Homo sapiens: one gene and its partners. The protein of the gene in region 1 purifies or fractionates together with the protein of each later gene. This does not show direct contact. Each region holds a gene or a part of one and is shown in the gene's direction. Other genes may lie near its edges.

Region 1 (3,500 bases):
CCCAGTTGTAGGAACATGCAAGTGTTCTGACCATGTTGAAGCTGGGCCACGCTAAGCTCTGATGTACAGTAGGTTAAGGGTATTAAATGCATTTGAACTTATGACATTTTCAACTTAAACAGGATAGAGTCCCATCATAGGTCAAAGAGCATCTGTATTGATTTTCACTTACTCGTTTGAGTCTTATACCACCATACCCATTACCTTGGGCCTTGGCAGTATTCGGATGCAAAGTGGCCCATCAGCAAAGAGAATCTATGATTCAATGACATGGTCAGCACTTTTGACTCTGGGTAGGGTTTCTTTCTGCCCACAGTGGAGCAATTTAAAAACCCAAGTACTCTGATTTCCTGGGTTATTTGTGAGCCAGGTGGCCTTGTGCATGGCTCAGCATGGCCCGCTTTCAGCCTGGCAGTGAGGACTGCAGGGGCTGAGCTACGGGCATTCTGGCAGCTCTGTGCGTGGCTGGATGTACCACGGCCTTGGGCACACTCAGGCCCAGGCCCTGATGGCGGCACATCCATCTGTGCCCTTCAGCTGGCGGGGAACCTGCTGGACAAGCTGGTGCTTCTGTGCTGCTGCCCACGGGACACCCACACGATTGGATTGTCCTCGTGAGGCCCAGTGGCCGGTGGGAATGCGTGAGAAGGATCAGTCTTGCCATTGTCAACCCTTTTTACAGGATTTGGCTTGGCAAGGCCGTTTTCCTCTGCAGCTGGGAGAGTGATATTCACATATATTCAGTTGTTGGAGCCCCGGGTCTGTGACTAATTTACTATTATTAAATCACTGATGTTCTATATCGTTCAATTCCAAGCCCTTGGATTGAGCACCTGCTGTGTCTTTGCCACTGTGGTAGGTACTGTGGTGGCTGCTGCTTTTGTAGCTTTACTTCTAGCACTTCACTGTGTTCATTCACTTAATCCTCAGAGCAGCTCTATGAGGCTGCCACCACCTTACTCCCGTTTTATAGACGAGCAGCAGCACCTGCTAATTAAGAGTGAAGCCAGCTGCCCAGGGCGACGGCTTTAGCTGGGATGCCACCCTCCTGGTCTGGCTCAGCCGCCTTCCAGAAGCTCACAGGATAGTTGATAGCCCTTCCCTCTTTCCTAGGAGTTTTGCAAAGGAAATTTTATTTCCCCATTTCATTTTATTTTTATTTGTGAAAAGGTAATGCACGTAGTTCAAAGTTGACAAGGATGCAGAGGAAAAGTGAATCATCCCATGGCATCCCCAGGCACCTGGTGTATCACCCTAGATACAGTGTGTTTTCGTACAACTTTCTTAAATTCTAAGCAAATACAAGTAAATATACCTACATTTATTTTTCCTTTTTAAAATGCAAATGGTACTTCCTGTATTCCGTTCTGTACCATTCTTTCTTTTTTTTTGAGATGAAGTCTCACTCTGTCACCCAGGCTGTAGTGCAGTGGTGTGATCTCAGCTCACTGTAAACCTCCTCCCCCTGAGCTCAAGTGATCCTCCTTCCTCAGCCTCCCAAGTAGCTGGGACCACAGATGTGCGCCACCATGCCCGGCTAAGTTTTTGTATTTTTGGTAGAGTCGGGGTTTCACCATGTTGGCCAGGCTGGTTTCAAACTCCTGAGCTCAGGTGATCTGCCCGCCTCTACCTCCCAAAGTGCTGGGATTACAGGTGTAGCCACATGCCCGGCACTGTACCTTGCTTTTCAAAAAAATTCAGGCAGTATGTCTTATCGATCATTCATGTTATTACATGAAGAAAATTTTATTGTTCTTAAGACCGCAAGGTGTTTCTTTATATGAATGAGCCATCATTTATTGAGTGAGGCCGTGATTGATGAACATTTAGACTTTTCCCAGTCATTTGCTATTATAGGCACTGCTACAGTGAATAACCTCATTTTTTTCATGTACAGATATGTCTGTAGAATAATTCCTAGAAGTGGAATTCCTGATCCAAAGTCGTATGTTAAAAGTTATTTAAAACCCAATTACATGTTGTTTACAAAAAAGTGCACTCTAAGCATAAAGACGTAAACAGGTTGCAGGTAGAAGGGTGGAAAAATATAAACCATGTACATACTAAGCAAAGAAAGCTTTGCATCTATACTAGTATCAGAAAAAGTAGATTTCAAGGTGAAGAGTATTCCCAGAAATAAAGGGGCACCTCATAAAGACAGTGATCATCAAGGAAACGTAACAATCTCTAAATGTGTATGCACTTGTGTTAGGGGCCTCCAAGACCACCTCCCAGGTTTGAAGAGTCTCTAAGAGGACTCACATGACTCAGCATGTAGTCATACTCTCAGCTAAGGTTGATCCAGCAGAAGGATACAGAGCAAGATCAGCAAAGGGAGGAGGCATATGGGGGATGTCTGAGGGAAGAGGGTACAAGCTTCCAAGAGTCCTCTCTCAGTTGAGTCACACAGGATGCGTTTGATTCCTCCAGCAATGAATTGTAACAACACACGTGAAATGTTGTGTAGCATGTCCAAAATTCCAGACTCTCAGAAGGGAAACACGTGTTTAGCATAAGCCACAGTACATAAACAGTTTAGGCACAGTGAGCTCCTCTTACCAGTTAGGTGGTAGGAACTCTCTTGAAATCTAAGTTCCCAGACTCCAGCAAAAGGGCAGACTTCTAAGCTGGTCTTTCAAAGCATAACAGTAAGGTCTGTTCTGATAACTCTTTTGTACAAAAGAGCAAAATTGGACAGAACTAAAGGGAACTATATTCAGATTCATAATCATGGTTGGAGACTTTTAACTCTTCTTCTCTCAATTATTGAAAAAACAGATAGATCAGAACACTCATAGGGATTTGGAAGCTCTGAAGAATACCGTCAATCACCTTGTCATCTCTTAACGCTACTCCCAAGAAAGCTAGAGTACACATTCTTCCCAAGTGTACCATCAATCACCCTGTCATCTCTTAAACACCACTCCCAACAAAGCTAGAGAACACGTTCTTCCCAAGTTCATATGGAACAGTCACCAAGATAGACCGTATGCTGGGCCATTAAAATGTCCCAATAAGCTTCAAAGGACCCAAATTATAGAGTATGTTTATCGACTACTGTGCTTTTAAGTTAGAAATAAATAATATGAGATCTAGAAAATCCTCAAATAGGAAATTAACATACTGGATCAAAGAAGAATTAATAGGGAAATTAGAAAATAATTTGAACTGAGTAATGGAAGAAAATATACAGATTTATAGGATATAACTAATACAGTTCTTTGAGGGAAATGTATAGCTTTACATGACTATATTAGAAAAGAAGAAGGTATAAAATCAGTGACGTCTGTTTCCTCCTTAACAACCTAAATAAAGGAACAAATTAGATACAAACCTAAATAAAGGAACAAATTAGATACAAAGTAACTAGAAGGAAGGAAATGGTAAATACAGTTATGCATGGTTCCTTGACAGTGCCGACACATTCTGAGAAATGGTGTTAGGTGATTTTGTCATTGTGCAAACATCATAGGATGTACTTACGTAAACCTAGAGGGTAG
Region 2 (3,500 bases), on another chromosome or scaffold:
GATTTTTTTAGTATGAACTTGAGATGATTTAAGAAAAAAAAATTTCATTTTGTTTTTTGAGATGGAGTCTCACCCTGTCACCCAGGCTAGAGTGCAGTGGCACAATCTCCGCTCACTGCAACCTCCGCCTCCCAGGTTCAAGCAATTCTTCTGCCTCAGCCTCCTGAGTAGCTGGGACTACAGGCACATGCCACCACGCCCAGCTAATTTTTGTATTTTTTAGTAGAGATGAGGTTTCACCTTATTGGCCAGGCTGGTCTCAAACTCCTGACCTCGTGATCCGCCTGTCTCGGCCTCCCAAAGTGCTGGAATTACAGGTGTGAGGCACCGTGCCCGGCCAAAAGATATTTTTTTTTTTTTTAACAAAACAGTTTCTTTAAAGTTAGTAAGCCTCTTCCGATCTGTTTGGTTTCCTTCAGTTCTATGTGTCAGTAACCACAGTCGAAGTTCACATGTATTGGTAAACTCATCCAAAGATTTAAGAGCGTCTATTCCTCCTCCTCTCATTTGGTTGTTTGAGGCTATTAGGTTTGATGGGAAGGCTACGTCTTTAATATGGTCTTAACCACAGAAGCACTAGTTAGCTAAGGGGTTTCAGTGGGCATCTGTGCTCAGTCTTTTAATCCTGCCTCTAGGGGTCTAGGTACAAGCTGCTTTTCCAATCCTTCAAGGCTTTAAATTTCTGAACTTTTTCTATTCTCTTCTGTTTTTGCTTTCAAATCTACTACTTCCTTCTTGAACTCATCATTTACTTATAATACTTGCCAAATATCTAATAGCAGCCAATACTCACTTCCAAAATCCTCTTTACCAAACTCCTATAACACTACAAGGTCAGTAGCCTCTTTGTATGTTCACTGACCTTGTAGTTGTATGAAAAGTTATTATAGGCAACAGCGTTACCAGATATTTTGCCACTATAAAACATGATCCTCCATCTTTCCAGCCTCCGGTATCTGTTTCCTCTCAGCCCTTAATCTGACCACTAAGGCAGTATCACTAAGGCAGGACTGCATAGGTTTTTATTGTAGCAGCACCTCACTTCCAGGTACCAGTTTTCTGTATTAGGATAATGAAACACTGAATATACAGATGGACAATGGCCAGATCATATATAAAACTAGAACTCTGACCCATGACCTATGTAGCAATAGGCCCAGTCAGGACTTGGTCAGTAATTACCAGCTTCCCTAATTTTTGTGCCTTCTTCCAATTCGGGACGACTCAGAGAAAGCCAAATATGCTTCCCAAATCAACCACATAGGATACCCCGCTTCCAGTGTCGACGAAGAGTCAAACTCTGTAAAATATTTTAAGAGATCTATTCTAAGCCAAATATGAATGGCTATTGCCCCATGACACAGCCCTCAGGAGCTCCTGAGAACATGTGCCCAAGGTGATCAGACTACAGCTTGGTTTTATACATTTTAGGGAGACATAAGACATCAATCAGTATATGTAAGATGTACATTGGTTAGGTCCAGAAAGGAAGACACCTTGAAGCAGATGGCTTCCAGGTCATAGGTAGATTCACAGATTTTCTGATTGGCAGTTGGTCGAAAGAGTTGTTACTGTCTAAAGACCTAGAATCAATAGAAGGGAGTATCTAGGTTAAGATAAGGGGTTGTGGGCAGGCACAGTGGCTCACGCCTGTAATCCCAACACCTTGGGAGGCCGAGGCAGGTGGATCACGAGGTCAGGAGTTCAAGACCAGCTTGGCCAACATAGTGAAACCCCATCTCTACTAAAAATACAAAAATTAGCGAGGCATGGTAGCGCACGCCTGTAATCCCAGCTACTCAGGAGGCTGAGGCAGGAGAATCACTTGAAACCGGGAGGCGGAGATTGTGGTGAGCCAAGATCAAGCCACTGCATTCCAACCTGGGCAACAGAGTGAGACTCCATCTAAAAAAAAAAAAAAAAAAAAAAAAAAGATAAGGGGTTGTGGAGACCAGGGTTCCCATTATGCAGATAGAATCAATAGGAAGGAATGTCTGAGCCAAGGTAAGGGGTTGTGGAGACCAAAGTTCCCATTATGTAAAGGAAGCCTCCAGGTGGCAGGCTTCAGAGATAATACATTGTAAATGTTTCTTATCAGGGTTGATTCTCTCCTGGATCAGGCAAAAGGCCTGAGAAAGGAAGGGAATTAACTTCAGAATGTAGATTTTCCGCACAAGAGACAGCTTTGCAGGACTGTTTGAAGATATGGCAAAGAAACATAATTTGGGGTCAAATACTTGGATTTCTTTCAGGGCCTGCCATCTGTCATGTGATACTATGCTAGAGTCAGGCTGGAATTGGGTATCTTATTGCTACAGAGAGTCTGTTTTGTCAGTCTTAAGATTTGTTTTAATGTTAGTGCTGGTCAGCTGTGCCTGAATTCCAACAGGGAGGAGGGAATAATGAGGTATGGCCAAACTCCGCTTCCCATCATGGCTGGAACTAGTTTTTCAGGTTAACTTTCAAATGCTCTTGGCTGGGAGGAGGGGTTCATTCAGATGGTTGAAGGACTTAGAATTTTATTTTTGGTTTACATCAGTTAGCCCACCTCCAGTTTCCCATGCCAACAACCTACAATCAGAGCATACCTGATGTCTTCCCCCTTTTTTTAGTATAAAGATTTCCCACTCCCCTGCTTGCCTTTGAATCTTTGCCAAGCACAAGTTGACAGTGGCTGACTCCCTACCTATATAGTAAGATCTAATTAAATAGCCTTTGTTTGTTTCCATTTGGGCAGTCTTTGTCTATTTTCACAATGTTATTAGGCTGTTTTGTGGTAACAAATCCCCAAATATCAATGGCTTAACACAACAGAAATGTTTCTCTTGCTCAGAGTTCAGTGGGAGTCAGTAGGGTTCTCCATCCAGTGGCTTAGGGATCCACCTTCCTTCCATATTGTCAAGCCACCATCTCAGAATGTAACCTACATTGTCATTAAAGCAGGAAAACCGAAGCAAAGTGACTTTTAACTGCCTCAGTCCAGAATTGAGATATGTTACATCTGCTCATCCAGCTTTGGCCAAATCTGGGAAATGGAGTCGAGTACTGTATGTGAATATAGTCTCTGCCAGAATATATTTACCAAAAGCAATTGGCTAAAGATATACACAATTCCTCCATTTCAGCGTTTTTGAGATCAGAAGATTTAGATTATCTTACAATTGAAATTTTTTTTTTTTTTTTTTTTGAGATCCAGTCTCGCTCTGTCGCCCAGGCTGGAGTGCAGTGGTGCAGTCTCGGCTCACTGCAACCTCTGCCTCTGTGGTTCAAGCGATTCTCCTGCCTCAGCCTTCCGAGTAGCTGGGACTACAGGTGCCTGCCACCACGCTCGGCTAATTTTTGTGTTTTTAGTAGAGACGGGGTTTCACCATATTGACCAGGGTGGTCTTGTACAATTAAAATTGAAATGAATATTCAAATGTAATGCTTCTGTTATTTCCCCTGATAAATGAAGTGACATTGTTTCATGGAAATAATAGTTTCTTTAAAATGAATCCTGT
Region 3 (3,500 bases), on another chromosome or scaffold:
GTTTTCCTGCTCTCATCATGGATTTCCCCTCACCATCATGTTGGGGCTTCCTTTGCTTCTGTCCTGTTGGATCCATTGTTTCTTATACCCCTATCTCCTTTCCTGCTTTGCTCCCTCATTTTAGGGGAACATGCCCTTCAGCAATTTCCTGAGAAAAGGATTGTTAATGAGAGATAAATTGTTTTGTGACTTTGAATATCTGAAAGTGCCATTGTTCTACCCTAAAACATATTCAACCATTTAACTGGTATATAATTGTTGGAGGTAATTTTCTCTCAGAATTTTGAAGGCATTGTTCCATTGCCTTGTAGTTATTGTTGAAGTCTAAAGCCATTTTTATTCCTCATTCTTAGTACATGACCTGGTTTTTCTCTGTGGAAACTTTCTGAATGTCATCTCTGTTGTACTGAAATGTTATAATCATGGTAGGCCTTGGTAGGAATCAGTTTTCATTAATTCTGCCAGTTATTAGATGAGCTTTTTTAATGGGAAACTTATGTCCTACATTTCTGAAGGATTTTCATGAATCGTTCTATGGTGATATCCTTCGTTTTCTGTATTCTGTCTTTCTGGAATTGTTCATGTTGTATGTCCTGCACTGATTTTCCTATTCTCTTTTAAAATCTTATTGTTTATAGATAAAAGTTTCTCGTATCTTTCTACAGATATGAATGATATATTTCTGTTTTTAGATTTTGAAGTTTTCTCTTCCCCCTATATGGTATGCTTCCTTCACGTTCCTTTTATTGCTTCATTTTGATCTGCATCTTTGCTGTTAGTGATTTTCCTCAAGTATCTGATGTCCTTGGGCCCTCATTTAAGAGTGAAGGTACAAGAAACAGATCAGAAGGTCTGAATTTGTGGGTGGGGCATATTGGGTTTGGATTTCACAATATCTGGTGTGGTTGGCCCATTTGATTAGGGAGTCTCAATGTCAGTATCTTTAGCCAATGAATTTTTGATGACTTTCCATTTATGTAATGAATTTAACAAGCACTTAACAATGTGCTAGGCACTGTTCCTGCTGACATGTAGCCTTCATGGAGTTGACATTTTAGTATTTTTAAGTCTTTTCCCTTGGGCTCAGTAGATTTTACTGAAAAGCTCCCCAGTCACCATCATTTTGGGGTCTCAGTAGAAGATACCTTGGAGTCTCAGTATTTAATATTTCATTGAGTCTGTGTATCCATTTTCATAATCTCCTGTCTTCCTTTGATACTCTGTACTTTTTCCTCCAAGTGTGCTTGGAATCTCCTGGTCTGGAGACTCTTTAGTTTGTCCTCTCCAAAGAATAAACCTGTCTTCTTTGTCATGAGGTGGGAGAGGGGAGGTGAGAGAGGGGAGGTGGGAGAGGGGAGCGGATCTAGAGTTTCTGAATGCTTTTAGGGCAGTTTGTTTGTTTTTAGCCCTACCATTCATGAGACACACTGGGTGTAAATCACATTGTTTCTATGCTGTTCTCACTCCTGATTTAGGATCTGTTTTCTCTACTGTTTTAACAAAATGTTTATATTCCTCCACCAGCTTTCCAGCTTCCAAACTTTTGTTACTGTTTCCTCTCCCTTTCTGTGTGTCGTTGGGAGCTTATGCCTTTAAAAAAAAATCCTTTTAGTGTGATTTTATTAGTAGTAGGGAATTAGCAGAAAACAAAAGTATATATTTTAGTCCGCCTCATTTCATGTGTTTTGCCCTTGGCTGTATCTGACTAGTTCCAGAGATCTTCCATCCTCCACTCTTGGGTTTTATGTTATCTATATCAATGCTAGTGGAAAAAAAGTAACTCCGGTTATTTAGAATGCCTTATTTACATCGTATTCATGGATGGATCGGGGCGGGTTGGCAGCCTGTATAAGCTGAGAAGTTAAAACATTTCAAACTTGATGATAAAGCCATCCTGAAGATATAGCCAGACAGAACCCTAAAGCTGTCCAGCTTCTCAATCTTGACTATCCCATAAATGAGCATTCTCCCTCAGTCTGGTGAAGAGGTAAACTATCCCTGAGCTTTTTGTGTAACACATTACATCCCTAGAGCTAAAAATGACCCCATCAGTAGTGTTTGTCTTGAAGGAGAAGCTAATTTAATAATTACAATAGTTGATTTAAAACAGTGGTCCCCAACCTTTTTGGCACCAGGGACCAGTTTCGTGGCAGATAGACAATTTTTCCACAGATGGGAAGGGGGTACATTTCAGGATGAAACTGTTCCACCTCAGATCGTCAGGCATTAAGAGTCTCATAAAGAGCACAGAACCTAGATCCATCACATGTACAGTTCACAATAGGGTTCATGCTCCTATGAGAATCTAATGCCGTTACAGGCGGAGTTTAGGCGGTAATGCTCACTCACCCACCCACCCACTGCTCACCCTCTGCTGTGCGGCCTGATTCCTAACAGGCCACAGACTGGTTGTTTGGGAGACCCCTGGTTTAAAAGCTTGTTCTTAATGCCTTAATGGAGCATGGGAAGGAAATTTTAGACTTCCTGTCTTTTGGATACTTGCTGAGGAACTGGACTTGAGACCAACAATAAAGGAATAGGTAATGACACCTAATTGGTGACTGGACCTGAATACACAATGTTTGCTATGACCTACAGATGACAGAAAGTTGGAAGGTTTTATATTTGACTCCCGTTTCTTTGGCCATTTACTGCTAATAGTCTCATCTGCAAAATGAGGGGTTGGACTAGATGATCTCTACTTCCCAGCCTAGTTGAGTAGATTACCAACAGCTAAGTTTACACTGCTGTGCCTAGTTTTCTTCTTTTGAAATGATTCTTGTTTAGTCAACTTTGCAAAATTCCTTTCTTTTTGACATATCTGTTTATATTTACATTTCCAGTTTTACTGGTTACTTGAGTTTAACATTAGCCAGCTTCCATTATCCTAATAAACAGTAAGAATTCTGTCACTGAATATTTTATCTGCCAGGTTTGTTCTTACCACTTCCTTTAATGACTCCTTAATTATTCCATCTTCTTATTAAATAGTGGGGTTTCTAGTTTGAGAGGGAAATGATTTGCTCTGTGAATGTGTGTACACTGTATATGTGTGTGTATATATATATATATAAAACATACATACATTTTTGTATGCATAAATATATATAATTTTTAAAAATCTGTTTAGGGCTTCAAGCAGCAAGCTCTTACAGTATCCACAGATCCTGAGCATCGTTTTGAGCTTGCTCTTCAGCTTGGAGAGTTAAAAATTGCATACCAGTTAGCAGTGGAAGCAGAGGTATGTACTAATTCATGATTTTTCATAACTGATGGAAAAGTCAGTAGGTACTTCTATGTGTTTGGTGTAATGTTTTGTTATTAAAGTTTTCCCAAATGCAAATTAGTGGCTCATTTTGTTGAAGTTATTGTCTCTCTCTTATCTTTTTAAAAGATGTATTATGTTAAACTTTGCATAAGTTAAATTGATTACATTGGAGATATTCTTAGCACTCTAATTTGTTTTAAGAAAAATTGTTTTCATATCTTATGTGAGCTCT
Region 4 (3,500 bases), on another chromosome or scaffold:
GGTTTCACCATGTTGGCCAAGTGAACTCCTGACCTCAAGTGATCTCCCCGCCTTGGCCTCCCAAAGTGCTGGGATTACAGGCATGAGCCACTGTGCCTGGCCTATCCTCCACTTTAATGAAGGCCATTTTTCTTTGACCCCTTCTGTATTTTAGAGTTCCTGGTAAAAGTTTTGTTTGAGAAAAAGGGATCTGCAACCTAAAAATATGCTTAAAAACAAATTAGAAGGCTGGGTGCGGTGGCTCATGTCTGTAATCCCAGCACTTTGGGAGGCCAAGGCAGGGGGATTATGAGGTCAGGAGTTCGAGACCAACCTGGCCAATATGGTGAAACCCCATCTTTACTAAAAATACAAAAATTAGCTGGGTGTGGTGGCGCATGCCTGTAGTCTCAGCTACTTGGGAGGTTGAGGCAGGAGAATCTCTTCAACCTGGGAGGCGGAGGTTGTGGTGAGCCGAGGTCGCGCCACTGCACACCAGCCTGGGCGACAGAGTGAAACTCTGTTAAAAACAAACAAACAAATTAGAGCCAGGTGTTTTGGCATGTACTTGTAGTGCTGGCTACTTGGGAGGATGAAGTGGGAGGATCATTTGAACCCAGGAGTTCGAGTCCATTCTGGGCAACAATGAAACCCCATCTCTTAAAAAAAAAAAAAAAAAACACTCCCCAAATTAGACTAGCTAATCCCTTCCAACCTTAAAATACTATGTATTTATGATTACTATTCTATGTTCTCTTATGAAGAAATACTCATGTTTTTTATTTTTCATAGTTCTCTTGCTATGAGCCCTGGTGAAGAAATCTTAACCTTATTACAGACAATACCATTTGATATAGAAGACCTTAAGAAAGAAGCAGCTAATCTTCCCCCAGAGGATGGTAAGTGATGGACCAGGATACAGTGGAAGGGTTAAAAAAAAAAAATTAAAATGTTCTACTCAGTCTCACAGGATCCTCTCCTAAGAGGACTTATGTGAATGTAGAATGGCAGTATTATGCTTTCTTCTTTTTCAGATGACCAGTGGTTAGATCTCTCACCAGATCAGCTGGACCAGCTGCTGCAGGAAGCTGTTGGCAAAAAAGAATCCGAGTCTGTTTCCAAGGAGGAGAAGGAGCAGAACTATGACTTAACTGAAGTCTCAGAGAGCATGAAAGCTTTCATATCCAAAGTCTCAACCCACAAGGGAGCAGAGCTGCCTCGGTAATTTGTGTTAAAGTATAAATATATAAATAGCTAGAACCCAAATGTTGAAGTCATAGTCATTGCCATTTCCACTTTTTTTTTTTTTTTTTGAGTAAATGAGTTGTACTGCTTGCTTTCTTTTTTGTGCCTAGTATAGTGATAACTTACTTATTTGAAGTCAGATTTCTAGAAGCCTCATCCTTTGCAATCCTTGAAATAAGCCAGAAAGATCACCCTAAAAACCATCATCCAGAACCACACAGGGAAACCATATACTTTACTCTTTAGTAGCTTTATGGGCTCAACATTTAACTTTCAACAAGTTCAGACCTCTGATCTCCCACCCTGCAAGCAGATTGGATACTGAAAAAGGAATTCATCAGAGGCAGAAATAATAACAGAAATATGAAACTACATTTGGCAAATAACAGGAAAAACAGGTAGATAGAATTATTACTTGTAGGCTGGGCGCGGTGGCTCATGCCTGTAATCCCAGTACTTTGGGAGACCGAGGCAGGCAGATCACGAAGTCAGGAGTTCAAAACCAGCCTGGCCAGCATGGTGAAACCCTATCTCTACTAAAAATACAAAAATTAGCCGGGTATGGTGGCGCACGCCTATAATCCCAGCTACTTGAAAGGCTGAGGCAGGAGAATCGCTTGACCCCGGAAGGCAGAGGTTGCAGTGAGCTGGGATCGTGCCACTGCACCGCAGCCTGGGTGACAGAGCAAGACTCCGTCTCAAAAAAAAAACAAAACAAAAAAAACTGTTACTTGTGTATCAAATATATCATTATTAGTGTTGATGCTCTTGAACCTGATGAAAGATATAAATTTATATTTGGTATTCTCTCTTTAAGAAAGCAGGGATAAGGGAAGATATGTTCTTGTTTATTTTTTAAGCTTTAGTTCTTAAAAGAACAGGCTTTATTTAAATTAACTCAAATAAATAATGGTTTTGCTAATGCTAGATATCTTATTGGGGCTAGAGAGTGGGTAGGTCCCTAAATCAGCATAAGCTAAATGTACATAAACAAGATGCAATTTTTACTTTTCATTTATCAGACTTTCCCATTTCTGTTGTCCTGCAAGGCCAGTAAACTCAAGGATTTTTAAAACTTAAACTACAACTTTTCTTGCTGTGCCTCCTTAGAAATTCTATCTTTGGTAGCTTTCCTAAGAATGGCACCACTTTAGAAAAGTTTCAAAGAGTTGTATTTAGAATAAATTAATTGTCTTTGTCCTTTAATATTGCAGAGAACCTTCTGAGGCTCCAATCACTTTTGATGCAGATTCTTTTCTTAATTATTTTGATAAGATTTTAGGTAAGTAGTGGTGTGATGTTGACTTTCATTTTGAAACTGTTAGTAGTATGGCTGTTGCTAGAGCATTGGTTTATGAGATATCTCAGAAGCCAAAATGTTTGCTTTCTCTTCCTGGTTTGAGTTGCTTTCAACCATGAATTACTACCCATGAATAATTTTGTAGAGGCTGCCTAGCTTAGTGTTTGACATATATAGTAGCTGCTCATTAATTTTTTTTTTTTTTTTTTGAGACAGTGTCTCGCTCTGTTGCCCAGGCTGGAGTGCAGTGGCACGATCTCGGCTCACTGCAAGCTCCGCCTCCTGGGTTCATGCCATTCTTCTGCCTCAGCCTCCTGAGTAACTGGGACTACAGGCGCCTGCCACCACACCCAGCTAATTTTTTTGTATTTTTAGTAGAGACGGGGTTTCACCGTGTTAGCCAGGATGGTCTCGATCTCCTGACCTCATGATCCGCCCATCTCAGCCTACCAAAGTGCTGGGATTACAGGCGTGAGCCACCGTGCCCGGCCTCATTAAATATTTGAGAGTGACTGAATGCTGTGTGTTTAAATAGGGTTTTACCTTGGCTCCCATATTATATTGTTCTTTTTTGGAATTACTGTACTTACAAATCAGTAATAAAAAGATAACTCAAAAAATAATTATAATATGTATATATGTACAGAACTGCAGAGAGAAAGATTGGGATACCCGGAAACTGCTAAAAGATGCTTACCTCTGGGGAGAGAGTGAGATTGGAGACAATACTTGTATGGCTTGAATGTTTACATCAAAATGTATTCATTTATTAGGTATTTTTAAAAATTTTTTAAGAAAAATATTTTAATTAATTGAATTCACTTTTTTTTAAGCTAAATCTTTTGATTCAGCTTGTACGCTTTTCCACAACATTAAATGCACACATATCTGCCAGCATTACCATTTGTAGAAGGGATTTTTGTGAAGTAGACTGACTGTGTGTATTAGTCTTTTTCTGTGGGTAACATTCTAATTA
Region 5 (3,500 bases), on another chromosome or scaffold:
CAGGGTTGGCCGGGCGCCAGCCAGACGGAAGCCACAGACATGTGGGTCTGGCTCGCCGGGCCCCTGCCCCGCCTGCTGGCTGCCCCCCAGCCCCCCGGACTCCCTGTTTGTCCTCAGCCAGGCCAGGAAGGTGCCATCTGGCCTGCGAGCAGGGCTTTGTCCTCGGCTGAGGGGAGAAGGGGTTCAAGGGCCGTGTCTGGGCTGGGGACAGGCCCCTCCTTGTGGCGGGGCGGCTGGGGCCCTGTGCTTTGCCGTTTGACCCGGCCCACGGCGCGGGCAGCATGCGGAGGAGGGCGGCAGGCCTGGGCTGTTGGTAGTTTGACCCTGGGTGCTGTCCTCAGGTCGAGGTCTGTCCTCCAGCCCTCTTCTGACTCTGGCCACCCAAGGCTGGGTGATGATTGAAGCCCCTGGCTGTCGTCTCCCTCCTGCCCTGGAGGCCTCCCCACCAGCCTGGGAGGGGGAGTCCAGGTACCCCGGGTGCCTGAGCAGGCGAGGCCCCTGTTCTGGGCATCCAGAGACCCACTAGCTTTAGGCCTGGTGTTCATTGGGGTGCTACTTGGATGCTGGGGGGCCAGGGGCCACTCCGTCTTGTTAAGTCCATCCCAGACCCTAGGAACAGGGTGTGTCCTTCCTCGTGCTCCGTTCCTCAGATGTTTGGCCCTATGCCAGGCAGGGTAGGGGCGTGAGGCAGGATCTAGAAGCCCAGCCTGGAAATAGCCTCACGGGGCTGGGGTAGGCAGGCCAGCCTGGCAACACACCTGCCATGTCCGGGCCCCCACCCTGCTGGTGCGTCCCCCACATGCCCGTGCACAGCTGTGCCATCAACTCTGCTGCCCTGTGAGTCCCCCGCATGCCCGTTCATAGCCGTGCCATCAACTCTGCTGTCCTCTGAGCAGGTGCCGTGACGGGCACATGCCATTGATGTGTGCACGAGGCACGACAGGATGGCCAGGTCTCCCAAGGTCAGGTTGGCCCCTCGGCCACTCCCCCACTACCCCGGTTGCTGACACCGGCTGGAGACCCCAAGGCCAGGCGCTGGCTCCTCAATAGGAAGTTCCCGGCCCCACGCAGGGCGTCAGTGCCCATGTGTACCTCCCACCCTCGAGACCAGCACCCTGGAGAGGCAGGTCAGAAGTCGTGAACCCAGGAGGACCCTACAGAGAAGGGGGGCCGGGGCTCAGCCCGCGGGAAGGGAGCAGATGCTGCCTCTCATTGAAGATTCCAGGCGGCGGCGGCGGCGGCGGCTCCTCCAGTTAATCCTCGCTGACTGTCTCCTGGAGGGTGGAGAGAGGGGAGGCGCCGGCCCGGGCTGCCTGCACTGCCTCTGCGCGGGTGCCATGTGCTGCTGCCGGGTCACCGTCTGCCGCTATGAAGATGGATGGGCCCAGGAAGAGGGGCTGGCGGGTCAGGGACACAGGCACGGCCCCTGGGAGACAGATGCTTCTCCACGGTGGGGCAGGTCTCAGAGCCCCTGGGCCATCATTCCTGCTGATCTTGTGGGGAGACGGCCATGGCCTCCTTGTTTTTTGGGTGTTTGGCATTTCGTGGCTCAGGGAGGCAGAGCGGGGCTGGTGCTCTTCAGGAGCACTGCCCGCTGATCAGCAGTCGTTACCTGACATGGCCAGATGGAACGTGAGGAAGGGCCGGGTTCCCGTGGCTCTGCATCCCTGGGAAGCTCAGAGGGGCCAGCGTGGCCATGGCTCTCAGACACCCCCAGGTCAGGGTAGGCCTGGGCAGTGCTGTCCCCACATGGGGAAGATGCTGGGGCTGAGAACGGCTGCCCCAGTGACAGAGTGACGCCTGGGTTGGCAGCCATCCAGAGTCCAGAGCACAGCCCCCATCTGGGCCGCCCTGAGGCTCCCTCCGCCCCCCTCCTCCCCCCTCCTCCCCCCTCCCCCTCCTCCTCCTCCTCCCCCCTCCTCCTCCTCCTCCTCCTACCCCCTCCTCCTCCTCCTCCTCCTCCTACCCCCTCCTCCTCCTCCTACCCCCTCCTCCTCCTCCTCCCACTTAGTCACACGAATAACAGGAACAAGCAAGGCCTTTTCATGCTCTGGTTTCTCCGGGCTGGACCCTGCGTGTGTGCGGGGCAGCCTCTGCGTGGCTAGGGGTGGCACGGCCTATCCTTGAACTTGGCAGGGACCTCAGCCCGGAAGGTGGGCTTTGGGCCACTGCCTCCTCCTGCTTTGTGCCTGGAGAAGACCCCTCATCTGAGTCCTCTGGACCACCTTCCCAGCTACACCCAGGTCCACTGTGTCCAGGAGCCTGGGACAGGCGAGCTGTTGCCTTCCCTGCCCCACCGTGTGTGTGAAGGCCGGTACCCCAGCTGGCCAGTCAGGGCCCAGCTGCTGCCTGTTCTGGTGGGCTCCAGGGCCAGGGCCACCCCAGGAGGTGGTTGGGGGCAGACCAGCACCTTCGGCCCAGGGGCAGTGCCAGCTTCCTTTGCCCCTGCCCTCCACGTGGGCACCAGGGCCAGGACATCTGCGGCCAGGTGGGCAGCTGTCGGCGCAGTTGACGTCTTGGCTACATCGTGGCACTCGCTTCACGGCGTGCTGGGTGCCAACGGTGTCTGCTTCCCCGGGTGTGTGTCTGGTGTGACCTTCGGATGTCCACACCAGGAGGGGTGGAGGCAGGAGCCCCTGCCACCCTGCATCCTTCACCTGCACACATTGTGTTTCTGGGGGGTTCTAGTTCTTTTGCTGGACTGAGGAGGCCCAGGGAGGGAGACGGATCCCGAGACGCACTTCACCCCAGACCTGTCGCAGCCACATCCCCTTTCTTACGGTTCTGCTTCCCACACCACATGCACCATGTTTTGCGTAGAAAGCCTTAGGGAAAGGATGTTTCTAGAACATGAACTAAATCTAGCGCCTTCCCGTGAGTCAGGAGACCTGGCTGTGTCCTGTGGTCAGTGGCCTATACCAGGCTCCTGCCCTGACTGGACGCTCTCCTCCCGCAGGATGCCGGCTCCAGGAGCAGCAGTGGAGGTCGGGAACGCCTCATTGTGGAGCCCCCGCTCCCTCAGGAGAAGGCAGGGGGACCAGCCATCCCCTCGCACCTGCTCAGCACCCCCTACCCCTTCGGCCTCTCCCCCAGCTCAGTTGTGCAGGATTCCCGCTTCCCGCCACTCAAGTAAGTTGGTCGGCGGGGACTTCGGTGAGGTGGCCAGGTGGGGACACAGTGCTCAGGGTCTGGGTCCCCAGGCAGCCTGCGGTCTGCACAGATGAGGCTGTGCCTGCTAGATGGTTGTCGGCCGCTGAGCCCTGGGGATTGCAGCCCTGTCTGTGCCCCTTCACACTGAGGTGGCAGTGGCAGCTCGCTCCCCCCGCTGCTTAAGCCCCGTCCTCGTTCGGGGTGCCAGGAGTCTGGGTGCCGACTGAGCGCCAGGGGTGATGCAGGGAGTTTAGCCGTCCCCCCATGCAGGAGCAGGTGTGCACTCACCTGTCCCCACCTTGCCCACTATCCCCGCCTGCAGCCTCCAGCGGCCCGTGCACCACGTGGTG
Region 6 (2,377 bases), on another chromosome or scaffold:
AGGTCAAGGCAGGTGGATCATGAGATCAGGAGATCGAGACTATCCTGGCTAACACAGTAAAACCCCATCTCTACTAAAAAAAAAAATAAAAAAATTAGCCGGGCGTGGTGGCGGGCGCCTGTAGTCCCAGCTAGTCGGGAGGCTGAGGCAGGAGAATGGCATGAACCCAGAAGGTGGAGCTTGTAGTGAGTTGAGATCGCGCCACTGCACTCCAGCCTGGGAGACAGAGCGAGACTCCGTCTCAAAAAAAGAAAAAACTAAAATGTTTATACTTCTAATTAAATCAGTCTTTTCTTTTAGGCAGTTAATAGTATCATATCTATCGTTTTTGGTACTCGAAGAATTGCCTGGGCTCACCTTGATCGTAAGTTGACAGTGCTGGACTGGCAGCAAAGTGACCGTTGGAGTTTAATGAGAGGAATATACTCATCATCAGTCTATTTAGAAGAGGTAAGGCAGTTGCACCTCCAGATTCCTACCTGCTAGAGCTCCTTGTGTAGTTTAATCTTCTGGTCCCAAAAGGAATGTAATAAAATAGTAAAGATGGGTTTTCTTCTGGTACTTGTTACTCACTTATTCCTATTATGTTTTCCATCACCTTTGATTTTTAAAAATTCAACCTTTAGTTAGTTCAAGAAATGCCTTATGCATCGAAGGCAGATACTGAGAAAATCAATGGTATTTCATTCTAAATGTTATAGAACATTATCACTCTTTTATTTATAAAGCTTATTTTTCAAAATGCCATCACATTGTCTCATTTGAGTTTTCAAAACCTTGCGAAATGGTCAGGAATTATCACCTTAATGGTCAGGAATTACCACCTTGATTATACATATGAAATCTGTGGTTCAGTCAAGCATCTGATGTGATTAGTCAGTTGCAGAGGTGATTGATTCTTGCTAGTTATTCTAACCGTATGCTCTATCCCAGAAAATGTTTGAAGGTTTAGTAAAACAGTTTTAAGTTGTCTAACCTTAAAGCCAATACATATTTTAGAAATTATGAAGTCCACTGTACAGATCAAGAAACTGGTACTTAGGAGGACTAAACAGCTTAGCTTAGCTGTTGTTGTGACATAACCATGACCAGAACCAGACTGCTCATAAAATGGCTTTTTCAGTTATTTCAAAATTGTCAATATAGTATAAATTAACTAATTATAATATTTTTAAATAGAAGTGGGACAGAGAGGGGACCAAACATAAAATGTAATGAATTATTTCTGTTCCTTTATTTTGTCTTTTTTTAAAAAGATTTCCTCGATCATTTCAAAGATGCCTAAAGCAGATTTCTATGTTCTGGAAAAAACAGGACTTTCCATTCAGAACTCATCTCTGTTTCCAATACTGTTACATTTTCATATCATGGAAGCCATGCTGTATGCCTTATTAAATAAAACTTTTGCCCAGGATGGGCAGCATCAGGTGCTGAGCATGAATCGAAATGCAGTGGGGAAGCATTTTGAACTGATGATTGGTGACTCCCGGACTAGTGGAAAAGAGCTAGTGAAGCAGTTTCTCTTCGATTCTATACTGAAGGCGGATCCTCGGGTGTTCTTCCCATCAGATAAAATAGTTCACTACAGACAGATGTTTTTATCTACTGAACTACAAAGAGTAGAAGAGCTTTATGATTCATTATTACAAGCTATTGCCTTCTATGAATTAGCAGTGTTTGACTCTCAGCCTTAGAATTCTGAGGTTAACGTGCTAAAGTATAATTATTAGCTCTAACGTAACACCAACTGTTGTGAACATCCATGTTATTGGAAAAGAACACATTTTCAGTGTATTTTAGATGTTTAAATTCTGACTTTTGGCTATTAAATGGTTTACACAATAAGCCAAGACCAAATCAATAAACATTTTATGAGATTCTGTGCCTCTCAGGTTAATGTGTTAAACAGTAACATGGGGCTTGGTGCAGTGGCTTATGCCGATAATCCCAGCACTGTGGGAGGCTGAGGCAGGAGGACTGCTTGTGCCCAGGAGCTCAAGAGCAGCCTGGGCAACATAGCAAGACCACATAATTTTTAAACATTTTTCATTAAAAAAAAGAAACAGTAAGATGCCAAATTGACAAAACAAGAAACAAAGTTATCTCCCTTTAAAAGCAAATACTATCTATACTAAACATTTGCATTATTATCATATTGTTAAAATAGGGAATAATGGTTTTCCTAGGTGGTACTTATTATAAGAATAAAGCTGGCCACGCATGGTGGCTCACGCCTGTAATCCCAGCACTTTGGGAGGCTGAGGCGGGTGGATCACCTGAAGTCAGGAGTTTTGAGACTGGCCTGACCAAAGTGGAGAAACCCTGTCTCTACTAAAAAAAAAATACAGAATTAGCCGGGTGTGGTGGCGCATGCCTG
Region 7 (3,500 bases), on another chromosome or scaffold:
CTGGGGGGGCTTGCAATTACTATGTGACTTTTTGAGTGAGAGACACAGTATGGCTCCTTGTTGTTCTTTTTTTTTTTTTCTTTTTTTGGAGACGGAGTCTCACTCTGTCACCCGGGCCGGAGTGCAGTGGCGTGATCTCGGCTCACTGCAACGCACTCTGCCTCTTGGGTTCAACCAATTCTGCCTCAGCCTCCCGAGTAGCTGGGACTACAGGTGCATGCCGCCCCTGGCTAATTTTTTGTATTTTAGTAGAGATGGGTTTCACCATGTTCGAGGCCGGTCTCGAACTCCTGAGCTCAGGCAATCCGCCTGCCTTGGCCTCCCAAAGTGCGGGGATTACAGGCGTGAGCCACTGTGCCCGGCCTTTTCTTTTTTGAGACTGGGTCTCACTCTGTTTTATGTAGCCTCCCTCACCCCTTCCCGGGGACCTGTGGCCCCAAACTTTGGACCTTTCACTAGCGAAGGCACCTTCTTACTTAGACTGAGGCCTTTACTCTTTTATGCACTGTGCGTGGCCTAGGTCTCTGAGCACATTAAAAATGAGCTCTACAATTAACATGCCAAGTTCAGGTCTATATTCTAACTCACAACAAAAGTGTGCACTCCTTGTCTAGTAGTTGGCAAATCTGTAACACGTTTGTGTGAGAAAGTACCTCTAGATGGTGTCAGCCTGGGCCCTAAAGAAATTGCAGCACAGCTTCCCTAGGTTGAGAGCATTTAGGTTAGGTGCCCCAAATGGGGACAACTTGCTCAGGGAGATAGACTGCTGATGTGAGGGATGAGATGGAGTGCCTGTGACAAAGGATTGTGCGTGGCCGTGACTCCCACATGGGCTGTTCTGCAGGGTCTTTGCGCACACAGCAGCATGGAATCTGGCCAGTTGGTCTAGAGTAGGGTTTTTCTTGGCAGTCATTATTTACCTTCTTATAGCCAACAGCATGGTGGTTGAGTCTCAGCTTTGGAGTCAGACTGCATGGGCTCGCACTCAGTCCTCCCTCCCGCTTGTTGGCTCTGTGGCCTTGGGTAAACCCTGTAACCTCTCTGTGCCTCCTTTTTTTGTTTTTTCATCTGTGAAATTTGCCTGTAAGGAAGTGTATGGCCTGGCCTGGGAGGTGCCTGGCACTTGACTGTGTTTTTGTCACTGTTGCTCAGATAGAGACAGCTGTCATAGTCCGTCTCTATTTCTTGTTTCCCTGCTGTGGGTCCTTGATTGAAAGAGCAGTTGGGAGACCCTCAGGCTCTGAGTGGCCTGTTCACCTCAGTCGTCTGCAAGGTGAGGCATCCTGTGCCATCTTAGGAGTGGCCCCCACTCTTCTTGAGGTGGCACTTGGCCGCTTCTTGAACGTGGGCCCCTGGGTGGCCAGGCGGGGGTAGGTGGGCCCTGGGATGTGACTGTGGAAGTGCAGGCCCATGACGCCAGTTCTTTCTGCTGTTTGTGCCCAGGTGGCAGCACCATGGATAGCTCCGCAGGAAGCAAGGCTAGGCGTGAGGCTGGGGAGGACGAGGAGGGATTCCTTTCCAAACTTAAGAAAATGTTTACCTCATGATATCCCAGCCGAGGTAGGAAAACCCTGGAGGTTTTTTTTCCCTTTGTTTTCCTCTGTGAACTAATCCTGGTTTTCTCCCACTTTAACCAATATTGTGCCCCCACCCCCAGGAGTTGGAACAGGTGCCAGTCCAAGGTGTGGTAAACCTAGCTCCACTAGGAGCTGGCCTCTCAGCCTAGGGAATAGATGACGTGGCAATCAGCCTGTAGTGCAGGACTGGCTGGGCTGCCGCGGCCAGCCTCTGGCTGTGTCTTCTTCCTGGGGAGGTGGCGATGCTGGGGCTGTTGTACAGCCCCCCTGCAGTGGTGGGTCCGGCTTGCCCATGGTCACAGAGGGCGAGTCAGGCAGAGCCAGGCCTAGAACTCAGATCTCCTCACGTCCTGCCTGCTTGGAAGCTGCCCTCCTGCGTGGACAGCGCAGGGCTGTGCAAGCCTGGGGGCTGCTCCAGGGGTAGCGCTTGCTCGCCGTGTCATCTTGGGACCCACTTTGGTTTATTATGCTCATCTCAGCAAGTGGGGTTCTCGCCCCTCTCTTGGCACAGCTGCTTTCCAGGGATTAACAGACGCTCCCCACAGGGGTGTGTTCCCTTGAAATGTTGAGTATAAGGTAACAGCCTATCTCTTTGGCTCAGGAAAAAGATCCACTGGAAACTAGGCCGGGAAGCAGCAGCCCCTCCAAGGGCCAGGGCACCTGGGAGACGGGAGGATTCCAGAACAGCAGCACTGAGCTCCCACCCGCAGAGCCTCTGGACGGCCTTGGCAACAGCAAAATCATGGGACAACACCTCTCTCCACGGAAAGGTCACAGTGGACAGCCCGGGCAGTAGGATGCAGCCCCAGAGGCTGGTGGCAGTTTCCTGTCCATTGGTAGGTGACGGCCCCTGGCTCAGGCAGAGGGAGATGGTTAGACTCTTGCAGGGCTAAAACTCTAATTTGGAATTGAATATTGTGGATATCTTAGTTAAAGGCCATGCTTACAGCTTAGAAATGAAGCCTTAAGCTGCATCAAGTTACGAAGTGATTAATTTCCTTCTCAGCAAACCTCCGGGAGGTTCCAGAATGAGTTCTTCCTGACAGGTTGTCTTCACTGGGAGCGTGGGGCCCCCAGGCCCCACCAGCACCGTCCTCCCCTAATGAGGGGCCCTGCCGAGGCATCAGCTGCTCTGCTCAGTTAGTTTTTATTCCCGGGGTACCAAGCAGCTGCACAGTCGGTGCCTGGGAGGCACGTAGAGGCCCAGAGAGTCCCTGGGGGTTCTGCTCTGACCGTGTGGGTGGTGATCCTTGTCAGGATGTACAGTCCTTGCTCCCACCCCATCCGGGATGGCCGCCTGTCCCTGACTATTGAGTCCTGTTGTTGTAAGCCAGGCATGGAGGGCTCCTGCCCTTCTGCTGAGCCACAGCCCATTGCAGCACTGTGCTGGCCAGACTTCAGCTGCCTTGGGAACTGAAGCCCTGCCACTGTTGCTAGTCAGGGGCTTGGTTCTCCCACTTACACTGTTGACATCTATTTTCTGAAGTGTGTTTAAATTATTCAGTGCTAATCATTGTTTTTTCCTTTGTAAATGTTGATTCAGAAAAGGAAAGCACAGGCTAAGCAGTTGAAGGTTCCCCACCATTCAGTGAGAGCAGAACCCCCATTCCCCAGCCTCTGCTGGTAGCATGTCGCAGTTTCCATGTGTTTCAGGATCTTCGGGCTGTCGTTAGACAGGTTAATGAAGAACACTTCTCAACAGTTTCCTTTTTGTTTTCCTTTATAATTCACTAAAATAAAGCATCTATTAGTGTCTGATTTAGGAATGTAAAATGATTCTGTATTAATGTAAATAAGATTATCTATTGCAAAAAGATATTTCAAACCTAAATTGTGGTCATTTCTTCTTTGAAAGAATTCAGACAGCCTCTGCAGGTGGCTTATGGGGGTTACAGGAGACTTGGCTGGCCTCATCCTGTGCTC

Evidence for each region.
Region 2: the proteins of NPHP4 (region 1) and LATS1 purify together in Homo sapiens (affinity purification with western blotting; one study listed by BioGRID). This does not show direct contact.
Region 3: the proteins of NPHP4 (region 1) and COPB2 purify together in Homo sapiens (co-immunoprecipitation; one large-scale study listed by IntAct). This does not show direct contact.
Region 4: the proteins of NPHP4 (region 1) and ECD purify together in Homo sapiens (co-immunoprecipitation; one large-scale study listed by IntAct). This does not show direct contact.
Region 5: the proteins of NPHP4 (region 1) and GSE1 purify together in Homo sapiens (co-immunoprecipitation; one large-scale study listed by IntAct). This does not show direct contact.
Region 6: the proteins of NPHP4 (region 1) and TEFM purify together in Homo sapiens (affinity purification with mass spectrometry, with the first as the bait; one large-scale study listed by BioGRID). This does not show direct contact.
Region 7: the proteins of NPHP4 (region 1) and DNAJA3 purify together in Homo sapiens (co-immunoprecipitation; one large-scale study listed by IntAct). This does not show direct contact.

The regions. Positions count from the first base shown.
Region 1 is NC_000001.11:5,982,426-5,985,925, reverse strand, and holds part of NPHP4 (nephrocystin-4), read left to right. Parts: intron 1-3,500. UniProt on the Homo sapiens protein: Involved in the organization of apical junctions; the function is proposed to implicate a NPHP1-4-8 module. Does not seem to be strictly required for ciliogenesis. Required for building functional cilia.
Region 2 is NC_000006.12:149,708,102-149,711,601, reverse strand, and holds part of LATS1 (serine/threonine-protein kinase LATS1), read left to right. Parts: intron 1-3,500. UniProt on the Homo sapiens protein: Negative regulator of YAP1 in the Hippo signaling pathway that plays a pivotal role in organ size control and tumor suppression by restricting proliferation and promoting apoptosis.
Region 3 is NC_000003.12:139,362,148-139,365,647, reverse strand, and holds part of COPB2 (coatomer subunit beta'), read left to right. Parts: intron 1-3,130; coding exon 3,131-3,241; intron 3,242-3,500. UniProt on the Homo sapiens protein: The coatomer is a cytosolic protein complex that binds to dilysine motifs and reversibly associates with Golgi non-clathrin-coated vesicles, which further mediate biosynthetic protein transport from the ER, via the Golgi up to the trans Golgi network.
Region 4 is NC_000010.11:73,137,009-73,140,508, reverse strand, and holds part of ECD (protein ecdysoneless homolog), read left to right. Parts: intron 1-771; coding exon 772-878; intron 879-1,013; coding exon 1,014-1,200; intron 1,201-2,438; coding exon 2,439-2,506; intron 2,507-3,500. UniProt on the Homo sapiens protein: Regulator of p53/TP53 stability and function. Inhibits MDM2-mediated degradation of p53/TP53 possibly by cooperating in part with TXNIP. May be involved transcriptional regulation. In vitro has intrinsic transactivation activity enhanced by EP300.
Region 5 is NC_000016.10:85,651,322-85,654,821, forward strand, and holds part of GSE1 (genetic suppressor element 1), read left to right. Parts: intron 1-2,956; coding exon 2,957-3,129; intron 3,130-3,472; coding exon 3,473-3,500.
Region 6 is NC_000017.11:30,898,486-30,900,862, reverse strand, and holds the end of TEFM (transcription elongation factor, mitochondrial), read left to right. Parts: intron 1-300; coding exon 301-450; intron 451-1,256; coding exon 1,257-1,694; 3' UTR 1,695-1,877; downstream 1,878-2,377. UniProt on the Homo sapiens protein: Transcription elongation factor which increases mitochondrial RNA polymerase processivity. Regulates transcription of the mitochondrial genome, including genes important for the oxidative phosphorylation machinery.
Region 7 is NC_000016.10:4,453,368-4,456,867, forward strand, and holds the end of DNAJA3 (dnaJ homolog subfamily A member 3, mitochondrial), read left to right. Parts: intron 1-1,443; coding exon 1,444-1,547; 3' UTR 1,548-1,560; exon of another isoform or gene 1,561-1,561; intron 1,562-2,178; coding exon of another isoform or gene 2,179-2,201; 3' UTR 2,202-3,408; downstream 3,409-3,500. UniProt on the Homo sapiens protein: Modulates apoptotic signal transduction or effector structures within the mitochondrial matrix. Affect cytochrome C release from the mitochondria and caspase 3 activation, but not caspase 8 activation.